Homo sapiens: one gene and its partners. The protein of the gene in region 1 purifies or fractionates together with the protein of each later gene. This does not show direct contact. Each region holds a gene or a part of one and is shown on either strand. Other genes may lie near its edges.

Evidence for each region.
Region 2: the proteins of BOD1L2 (region 1) and ATG4A purify together in Homo sapiens (affinity purification with mass spectrometry; one large-scale study listed by BioGRID and IntAct). This does not show direct contact.
Region 3: the proteins of BOD1L2 (region 1) and DCP1B purify together in Homo sapiens (affinity purification with mass spectrometry; one large-scale study listed by BioGRID and IntAct). This does not show direct contact.

Annotation. Positions count from the first base shown.
Region 1 is NC_000018.10:57,145,518-57,149,270, reverse strand, and holds the start of BOD1L2 (biorientation of chromosomes in cell division protein 1-like 2), read right to left. Parts: upstream 2,185-3,753; 5' UTR 1,959-2,184; coding exon 1,440-1,958; 3' UTR 1-1,439. UniProt on the Homo sapiens protein: May play a role in proper chromosome biorientation through the detection or correction of syntelic attachments in mitotic spindles.
Region 2 is NC_000023.11:108,098,265-108,101,917, forward strand, and holds part of ATG4A (cysteine protease ATG4A), read left to right. Parts: intron 1-3,653. UniProt on the Homo sapiens protein: Cysteine protease that plays a key role in autophagy by mediating both proteolytic activation and delipidation of ATG8 family proteins.
Region 3 is NC_000012.12:1,955,868-1,959,520, reverse strand, and holds part of DCP1B (mRNA-decapping enzyme 1B), read left to right. Parts: intron 1-3,653. UniProt on the Homo sapiens protein: May play a role in the degradation of mRNAs, both in normal mRNA turnover and in nonsense-mediated mRNA decay. May remove the 7-methyl guanine cap structure from mRNA molecules, yielding a 5'-phosphorylated mRNA fragment and 7m-GDP.

The DNA of each region.
Region 1 (3,753 bases):
CTGGAGGAAGCTCACATTTAAGTGGGGATGACAGATCTGTAAGCAAAGACAGTTCACTGTGGTGAGGTGGTGTGGCTAAAAGCATGGTTAAAAGGGTTAAAAGTGAGGGCTCTGTGCTCAATACAGGCTCAGCCCCAGCCCCACCACTTAGGCAGTGTCTGAGCTTTGGTTTCTACATTTATAAATGGGAATAAAAATGGGAATAAAGATACGATTTCTTCAATTAGATCATGAGGACTTACTACGGTAAGCGAAGTTAAGCGTTTAGTACACTGCCAGCTGTAGAGCAATAGAGCAAGTGCTTCGTCAGACCTAGCTACTATAGTAAGTGTGGTCATCCCTTATGAGATCTATGGGAGCACAGAGGAAGGAGTCTGTCACTCCTGCTTAGACGATGTGTGGCTCCTCAGGAGCTGAGTCTTAAAGGAGGGTAGGAGTGGTTGAGGGCATTCCCTTCACAGTGAGCAGAGGGAACACAGGGTGTCCAGGATAGTCATGGGCATGGTTGTCATATGAGAAATGACAGTGTACGGGGCAGCAGAGGTGACCAGGGGCCCCATTATCACGGGCCTCATAAACCATGCCAGGTGTCTGACCTTCTAGAAATATCAGAAAACTGACGGAGCTTAAAGAGGAAAAGGATGTAAATCTGCATTTCTTTTTTGTTGTTGCAGTTGAAAGATAAGCCATTTATTGACCATCCACTTTTCAAATAAAACACAAATGTGAGCATAACATAAACACACCCAAGACTCACTAGCCCCTGCAAGACAGGAAGCATTCTTGGACAGAGAGTCTGCAAATGAGTTTCCTTATACCTAATGTCTGAACTTCTCACTCATTCTAGGGTTTCATGCTTTGTTATCTCTTACAAAGGAAAGGAAACTGGCTAGAAGATTCATGTACAAGAAGGTCACAACTTCAAAGCTATCTGACACTAATGTTGTGTACAATCTAGTTTGCAACTCTGAGAGACAATATCAAATAAGTACTGTCAAATATTCCTCCCAGTTAACCTTTACTGTCATTGTTCTTTGAAATTGTCTTTGGGATTGGTTATGTTCTCTCGCTGTAGCTTTCGTTTATCTCAGAGCACAAACCCTAAAATCCATGTGCAGTCTCCATGTTCAAGTATAGATGTCTGTTTCAGGACAATCCTGGGTCGCGGTAGTGTTTCCCTCTCTGTAGTGTGTGTTTGGTGTCATGCCCTTGGAAAGGCTGGCCAAATGGCAGCGCAATGCAGGAGGGTGCCACGGTCAACTTTCTCTCTGGCGAACTTGCTTCCCTTTCAATCTGGTCACTGCTCATGGTCGAGGTGGAAATCTTGAGCTCAGTGATGAACTTGGCTTATCTTCAATCTGAAACTGCACTCTTATGTAACCGAATCCATTTCTTCACCAAAAATTAAATAGCGCTTTCAAAAGCTGTCAGGCATATTCTTAGGAAGTGTCCTGAGACGGAGCTGGAGGGTCCTGGCCTTCTGGCTCTGGAGGGAGTGCTGGCACAGCTGCTTCTTTCTGGGCCACCAGGAATTCATGAATTATTTGTTCTATTTGTGGCCTGAAGATGTGGTTTAGTTTTGGATCCACCACCTGAGAACTAATCCTGTCCACTCCAGCTTCTGACCTCCCTGACTGAACCACACTCTGCCTCAGACCATCGTGCAGTTGGTTGTCGTTTGCTGGAGGATTCCATTCCTGCTTGTCCAGATGTGTCGACACAAAATTATCCGCTTTCTGGCTCAGGTTTTGGTAAGCTGGCTTGGTGTCCACGTCAGCCTTGCAGTCCCGGCGGAAGCTGTCAAAAAGGCCCCTGCTCTTGAGCTGCCCCACGATGATAGCGATGAGCTGAGGGTCGCCAGGGGGCAACGAGGCCGGGTTGATGGGGCCGCCGCCCCCGCTGGCCCGGGTCGAGGCCGGGCCCGCACCGCCGCTGCCGCCGCCGCCACCGTCCGCCATGGCTGCGCACCGGGCCCACAAGGAAACCGATTATAGCTTCTTCTCCAGGACAGAAAGCCTAGAATGTGTAGAGGTGGCTAAGGGGGCGGTGAAGGAGGAGGGCCCCAAGGAGGCAGCGGCGGAGGTGACGGTGGTGGTGATGGCGGCGGGGCCGGTGGTTGGGGCGGCGGTGGGGGAGGCCAGCTCCAGACCGCGGAGGTTGTGGAAGACGCGGCAGCAACCGCCTGCTGGATTCCAAGCGCGCTCCAGATGGCGTCACCGTTGACCTTTGCATTGTGAGGCGGGAACCGTAATCTGCATTTCTTAAAAGATCTCTAAGAGGGAGGTGGGAAACAAATGCCAGTGGGCAAGGGCGAAACAGGGAGACAATTTCAGCAACCATTTCAGTGCCCTAAGAAGGAGATGGCGAGGAGTGAATGATCTTCGTGGCCTGGCAGGTGAAGAAGGTAACAGGGATACAAGAGATATTTAGGAGATAGACTCATCCCAGGGATTGGAGAACAACGGGGTGAGGGACGAGGGAAAGGAGAGGGTCAAGGATGACCCCCAGGCTTCTCACTTGGGCAGGTGCATGGAGGTGCCATTTACTAAATGGAGAACAGGTATAGAGGTGAGGATGGGAGACAGAGACATGATCGTGCATTCCATTTTTATTTACTAGTTTAAGATGGGTATGGGTTATTCAGATGCAGACATCTGCCTATGAAGTCCAAAGATACAAGGACTAGGGGCTGGGGAGAGACATCTAACTCACTGAAGGTAGAGACTATAGGTGGCAATTACAATGGAGAACTTAGAAGAGATAGAGGAACACCTGGAGAGCCCATGAGGGGGACTGAGAACAACACTAAAAAGATGGAGGGAAAACTACAAAAGCCTTGGATCATAGACCGCAAAAGGTACATTTCATGAAGGCCATGGGTGAAATGCCACACTATGTTCCACAAGGTGTCCATTGGCTTTGGTAGCCATTGATGAGCCTAGGGCAGATGTGTCAGTCAGAAGGAGGTCATTTCAACAAGAGAACTGTATTGCAACCAAGAGCCACAAAAGGCAACCACATCCAGCGCCATCCAATAGAGAAGTGCAGGTGCACAGAAAGAACCTTCTATCAATATTTCAAAAGAAAAGCAGATCCCTGATTTCACCCCAACACTCACTTCCCTGAATTAAAATGCCCCTGAGATGTAGACACCACATTGTTCTATAAGCCGTAACATAGCTTAAAGGTAGTATATTTCACAAAGAAAGTTTACACAACAGACTCTGTCAATAACCTCACCCCATAGCTTCTGACATACAAGTACAGATGCCTCAGATGGACGTATTCTGAATCTCATCCCACAGGAGACAGTGAACCTACCAAGACTTCACCACAGCAACCCCCTACCTATGCTCCTCACCATCCCCATGATCAGCTCGACAATTCAGTTCTGTATTTTTTTAAATTAATCAATATTTATTGAGGGACTAGTCGATGTGGCCCTGTGCTAAGCTTTATGGAGCTCTCCACGTGCCTGGCCCAGTCTAACACTCAATAAATGTTTGCTGTGGCTGTTGTTTAAGACAGGCAACATGGCCAGCCTTTGAAAAGCTTACAATCTAGTTGGAGAGGGGAGATGTTGACAGAGAAAACCATTGAGGACATACACAAGCTCCATGGGAACTTAGATGCAACATGCACACCTAGCATGGTGCCTGGAACAAAAGAGAGGCACCATTAATATTTGCAGAATAAAGATTGCATAGATGAAAGGAGGGTGTCCCTGTCATGTGTTGGAGAACACTGAAGCCT
Region 2 (3,653 bases), on another chromosome or scaffold:
CAAACTGTTACAGGCTGTTATAATAAAGCACTTTATATTTACTCCCTGAGTTTTAGCTTCCACACTCTTGTTTTAAGTTGTTTGCTTTATAAGTGGTTTCTTTTTTTAAAAGGGTTTTATTATGAATAAGAGACTCGCAATAATTTGCAAAGATAGTACAGAAAGGCCCCATATAATCTTCATCTGAGTTACTTCAATCATTGCATTTTACATAATTATAATACAATATCAAAACCAGGAAATTGATACTGGAATGATACGTGTGTATAATTCTATGTTATTTTATGATGTGTAGATTTGTTTAACCATTATCGCAATCAAGAAATATTCCATCTCTCCTGTGCTACCTCTTTATAGTCACACCCACCACCTACCCCCACCATTGATAACCCCTGAAAAATACTAATTTGTTCTCCTTTTCTATAACTGTCATTTTAAGAATTTTATATATAATTAAAATGATTTAATTTTTAGAATCATAAAGTATGTGACCTTTTCCACTATTTTTCACTCAGCATAATACATTTGAGACTCATTCAAATTGGTATCAATAGTTCATTCCCTCTTATTGCTGAGAAATATTACACGACATGGAGGTACCACAGTTTTTTTAACCATTCATCTATTAAGGGACATTTTTAAATGTCCAGTTTTTGGCTATTACGAAGAGAACTCTTATTAACATTGAGTACAGTGTTTTGTGTAGATGGAAATTTTCATCTCTCTGAGATAAATGCCCAGGAGAGCAATTACAAGGTGGGACGGTAAATATATGTTTAATTTTAAAAGAATCTGACAAACTAGTTTTCCAAAGTGACTGTACCATTTTGTATTCTCACCAGCAATGGTATGAGAGATCCAGTATCTCCACATCCTTTCCAGCATTTGGTATTCTCACTATTTTTTTTTTAAGTTTTAGCCATTGTGATAAGTGTGTAGTGATATATTACTGATTTAATTTGCATTTATCTGATGGCTAATAAAGTTCAACATCTTTTCATGTGTTTATTTGTCATCCCCATATCTTCTTCATTTAAATATCTCTTTATATCTTTGGCCCATTTTCTAATTGTATTGTATTGTTTGTTTTACTGTTGAGTTTTCAGAGTGCTTTATGTATTCTAGATACCAGTTCTTTGTCAGATATGTAGCTTGCAAATATTCTCTTCCAGTCTGTGGCTTGTCTTTTCATCTTAATAGGATTTTCCACAGAGAAAGAGCTTTTAATTTTGATGACATTCAACTTATTGATTTTTTTCCCTATTATAGATTGTGCTTTTGTTGTTACATCTAAGAAGTCTTCACCAAGTCGTAGGTCTCAAATATTTTCTCCTAGATTTTCTTCTGAAAATGTTATAGTTTTACATTTTACATTCAAGTCCATGATCCATTTTAAGTTAATATTTGGCATAAAATGTGAAGTTTAGGTCAAGGTTAATTTTTTTGGATTATTGATATCTAGTTACTTCAGCTCCATTGAATTGCTTTTGCACTGTTGTAAAATATAAGTATGCCGTACTTGTGTATATCTATTTCTGAGTTTTCTAATCTGATTCATTGATCTACGTATGTGTCCCTCTGCCATACCACACAGTGTTGAATACTGTAGCTCTATAATAAATCTTAAAATTTGATAGAGTGATTCCTCCTAGTTTATTGTTTTCAATATTGCCTGTTCCTTTAACTTTCCCTATAAATTTTAGAATAAACTTGCCTATATCTGAAAAAAGTTAGCTGAGATATTGATAGGAATTGTATTAGACCTGTGTATCAGTTTGGGGAAAACTGACATCTTTACTATGCTGAGTCTTCCAATCCATGAGCACCATATGTCTCTCCCTTTATTTAGATCTTCTTTTATTTATTTTATCAGCACTGTTCAATTTTCAGCATAGAAATCTTGTATGTTTTGTTAGAATTATACATAACCATTTCATTTTTGGAGTGACTATTAATGGTATTTTATTTTGAATTTTGGTTTCCATGTATTCATTGCTAGTATATAGAAATATAAATGATTTTTGTATGATAGTTTTGCATATTGAAACCTTGCTGAATTCACTGATTAGTTCTAGGGGGTTAAAAGGTATTTTTCTAATTTTTTTTCTTTTGTTTTCATTGTTTTTTAGGACTTTCTATGTAGACCATCTTGTCATCTGCAGAGAGGGACAGTGATATTTCTTCCTTTCCACTCTGTGTTTTATGTTGAATAGCAGTGGTGAGAGCTAAATTCTTGTCTTGTTCCCAGTCTTAGGGAAGAAGAGGTCAGTCTTTCAGCATCAACTATAATGTAGTTTTTTTTGAAGTTTAGATCGTTCCCTCTTGATTTCTAGTTGTCTGAGTGTTTTTATCATGAATAACTATTGAATTTTGCCAAATACTTTTTGCATCAATTGATATGATCTTGTGATTTTTCTTCTTCAGTTTGCTAATGCAGTGGATTACACTAATTTATTTTCAAATGTTGAGCTAGCCTTGCATCCTTGGATAAAACACATTTGGATGCGATGTATAATTTATATGTTATATTTGCTCATATTTGCTGGGGATATTTGCTTCTATTCATGAATGATATTGGCTTGCAATTTAATTTTTTGGTACTGTCTTTGTCTGATTTTGGTATCAGTGCAATATTGGCCTTATAATAAGAGTTGGGAAGTAGTCCCTCCTCTTCTATTTTCTAGAAGACATTGTGTAATATGAGTGTTAATTCTTCTTTAAGTATTTGGTAGAATGCTGCAGTGAAATCATTCAGGCCCAGATGGTTTCAATGAAGAATTTTTTTTTTTGAGTTTTAAAATTATATGTTCAATTTTCTTAATAGTTACCAAGCTATTCAAATTATCTAATTTCTATTGAGTTGTGGTGGTTTGTGCTTTTCAAGGAATTTATCCAGCTTATCAAAATTATCAACTTTATACATGCATATTTGTTTGTAGTAATCCCTTTTGGTGTCTGCAAGGTCTATAATAATATCTCCTGTTTCATTCCTGATATTAATGATTTGTGGCCTATCTTTTTTATTTGTCAGTTTTGCTTAAGGTTTGTGAATTTTATGAGGCTTTTCAGAGAACTACCTCTTTGTTTCATTGATGTTGTCTGTTGATTTTGAGTTTTCAATTTCATTGACTTCTGCTCTTTATCTCCTTACTTCTGCTTGCTTTCAGTTTAATTTGCTCTTACTTTTCTAGTTCCTTAGGGTGGGAAATTAGATTATTAATTTCAGACATTTCTTCTTCCCTAAGTTAAGCCTTTAGTGCAATGAATTTCCATCTCAGCACTGCTTTAGCTGCATGTCATGTATTTTTTTTATCACAGTAAAAAACCATAGCAGGAGATTTAGTTCTTAACAAACTTTAAAGTGTACAGTACAATATTGTTAACTATAAGCACAATGTTGTACAGCAGATCTCTAGAAATTTTTCATCTTGAATGACTGAAACTCTATGCTTATTGAGCAGCAACTCCCCATTTCCCACCCCCCACCAACCCCCTGGCAACTACTATTTTCCTTTCTGTTTCTATGAACATAACTAATTTAGATATATAAGTGGAATCATGCAGTATTTACCCTTCTGTGTCTGGCTTATTTCATTTAACATAATGTCTTCAAGGTTCATCCATATTGTAGCATATGACAGGGTTTCTTTTTA
Region 3 (3,653 bases), on another chromosome or scaffold:
TTTGCATTTCCCTGATGATTAGCGATGTCGAGCATTTTTCACATACCTATTGGCCACATGTATGTCTTCTTTTGAAAAATGTCCACTCAGGCCCTTTGTCTATATTTTGATCAGAACATTTGTTTTCTTTTCTTACTGTTGAGTTGTTTGAGTTCCTTATCTACTTTGGACATGAATCTCTTATCGTATGTATGTTGTGCAGGTATCTTCCTCCACTCCATAGGTCATCTCTTCACTCTGCTGTTTCCTTTGCTATGCAACAGCCTTGGGTTGGATGTAATCCTGTGTGTCTCTTGCTTTTGTTGCCTGTCCTTAGGGTCACATCGAAAAAGCCATTGCCCAGAGCAACGTTAGGGAGCTTTTCCCCTGTTTCCTTCCAGGAGGTTTATAGAAAAAGTCATTGCCCAGAGCGACGTTGGGGAGCTTTCCCCCTGTTTCCTTCCAGGAGGTTTATAGAAAAAGTCATTGCCCAGAGCAACGTTGGGGAGCTTTCCCCCTGTTTCCTTCCAGGAGGTTTATAGAAAAAGTCATTGCCCAGAGCGACGTTGGGGAGCTTTTCCCCTGTTTCCTTCCAGGAGGTTTATAGAAAAAGTCATTGCCCAGAGCGACGTTGGGGAGCTTTTCCCCTGTTTCCTTCCAGGAGGTTTATAGAAAAAGTCATTGCCCAAAGCGACGTTGGGGAGCTTTTCCCCTGTTTCCTTCCAGGAGGTTTATAGAAAAAGCCATTGCCCAGAGCGACGTTGGGGAGCTTTTCCCCTGTTTCCTTCCGGGAGGTTTATAGAAAAAGTCATTGCCCAGAGCGACGTTGGGGAGCTTTTCCCCTGTCTCCTTCCGGGAGGTTTATGGAAAAAGTCATTGCCCAGAGCGACGTTGGGGAGCTTTTCCCCTGTCTCCTTCCAGGAGGTTTATAGAAAAAGTCATTGCCCAGAGCGACGTTAGGGAGCTTTTCCCCTGTCTTCTTCCAGGAGGTTTATAGAAAAAGCCATTGCGCAGAGCGACGTTAGGGAGCTTTTCCCCTGTCTTCTTCCAGGAGGTTTATAGAAAAAGCCATTGCCCAGAGCGACGTTAGGGAGCTTTTCCCCTGTTTCCTTCCAGGAGGTTTATAGAAAAAGCCATTGCCCAGAGCGACGTTAGGGAGCTTTTCCCCTGTCTTCTTCCAGGAGGTTTATAGAAGAAGCCATTGCCCAGAGCGACGTTAGGGAGCTTTTCCCCTGTCTTCTTCCAGTAGGTTTATAGAAAAAGTCATTACCCAGAGCAACGTTGGGGAGCTTTTCCCCTGTTTCCTTCCAGGAGGTTTATAGAAAAAGTCATTGCCCAGAGCAACGTTAGGGAGCTTTTCCCCTGTTTCCTTCCAGGAGGTTTATAGAAAAAGTCATTGCCCAGAGCGACGTTAGGGAGCTTTTCCCCTGTTTCCTTCCAGGAGGTTCATAGAAAAAGCCATTGCCCAGAGCGACGTTGGGGAGCTTTTCCCCTGTTTCCTTCCAGGAGGTTTATAGAAAAAGTCTGCCCAGAGCGACGTTGGGGAGCTTTTCCCCTGTTTCCTTCCAGGAGGTTTATAGTCTCAGGCCTTACGCTTAAGTCTCTCTAGAATTCTTAAATTTGTGAACATCCCAAGAAGTGGAAGTAGGAAAAATGTTGAGCTATCAGTATATATGATATGGGTAAAGTGAAGTCTGTCTAGTTTACAGGAGGTTAATAAAATAATTTGAAAACTTATTTTGGCTGAAATTTTGTGCATTCTCTTTTGAGAAATAACTTTCTGTGAATCTGCTTTAAAGTAGAAAAGATGTTAATTTGCATTTCATCTCTTTTTATCTCCGCCCTATTCAATTTCTAGTTGAGATGCAAGTGAACAGTAAAATAACCAAATTTTAGTAAGAACAAGAGGCAGGACCAGAAATGATCTACAGGCTGCATAGTTAAGCTTGGAGTATTCAGAAGTGGACTATTTGTGTTTTGTGGTTTAAGACAAGAATTATTGGCTCTTTTCTGGATATAGCTGTGAGTTATTTATGAAATTATAGAAATTTTTTTGTTGAATGATAGAATTCAAAAGAATATAAAAAGAAAAATCACCAATAATCCTATAAACTGAAGATAGAAACTTTTTATACTTTTATTGTATTTTGTTTCAAACATCTCTCTTGGCATAAATACATATGTTTATGTATGTATGTGTTTGTGTGTGATTAAAACTGGATTATATGACATACTTTTTGAGGTTTTATTGTATTTTAACCTCAGCATCCAACAGAGGAAGTTTTTGAAGTTTTAAAGAAATGCCTCAGGTTCTCTGTGAAGAATCCATTATATGCTTTTTCAAAAACTGTTTTTCCCCCCAGGATTTTAAAGATATTTAGGTCGGGAAAAGCATACAAAATTAAACAACTGGAAAATGAGCTACAAACTACTGAGGTGGATGATTAATTCTGAGCACTCTGATAAGAGGGAGCAATTGTTACATAAAAGCAAGGTTTTGTAGGTAGGCAGTTGTAGTGACACAGAAAACAGCTTCTGGAGATAACATTTTAACTAGGAAAAGCTATCAGGCTTATTCATATCAACAGACAAAGCATCCTGTTAGCCCATATGGATATGGGCATAGGGAAGCTGGGAAAAATCTGCCTTTCTTTGCCGGAAATTCAGTGTTTCTGAACATAGAAAAAGAAGAAATACAGAAAGCGTCATTCAAAGAAAGGAAGCATTCACGTTCTTTTAAATAGCAAGGCTTTTCATGCCAAAATTGTGTAAGGGATTAAATGTTAGCCTGTATTCTTGTCTTGTCTTGGTTATCCATGACTTGGGAAAGCCATGCCAGTTGGTCCATGCCGCCATACCCTCATTCACCTAAGAAGAATTGGAAGTAACACTTTATGACTTATAAGGTGATTTTGCATCCCACGTAATACTTGTGCTAAATATACAAATTATTGATAGAATGCCTGGAGGAAGAGAATCTTTTGTATGGTTAACCTCACATACAGTGCATACAGTGGTAATAGATGCCACACCCCCAGATCGTTGGATTAGAGAATACACATTGATAACTGTAAAACACATTGGGAATGCTGGGTTCCTGAGGGACAAGATTGTGTTTATATTTCATTTCATGTCAGGTGTGGAATATTTTGGGGCCTGAGGCCTTGGCTGTACAGTGGAAACAAATGATGCTTCAGAGAGTCTGTAGTACAGAAAGCAGCATTTTATATTGTTTTATTTAGTGTTTTAGCAAACTAGACACCAGTATCATTGCCATGCTCTTTTTGTTATGAATCCTACTGTGTTAGCAATTGCATGGTTGGTTAGATTAATGTATAATAATGAGTCAGTGTTGGAAATGATGAGATTTGTCTCTTGTCTCTTTCTCTACAAAATTCTAATTTGTAGTAAGTAGCTCAGAACGCTCAGATTTGAATTACTCTGTTTATGCAAGAAGTCATTTATTAAATAAAGATGATGTTAGTAATTTTTAAATCAGTGGTTTGAGTCAGCTTTTTGGTTTGTAGACCAAAAAAGATTTAGTTACTTTGATGAAATGTACTCAACTACTCTCCAATTTTAAGTCAACTGCTTAAATTGTCCAGACATGTTATTTAAGGAATGGTTTCTATATTTGTTTATCATTGAAAGACATTAGACTATATATATTTAAA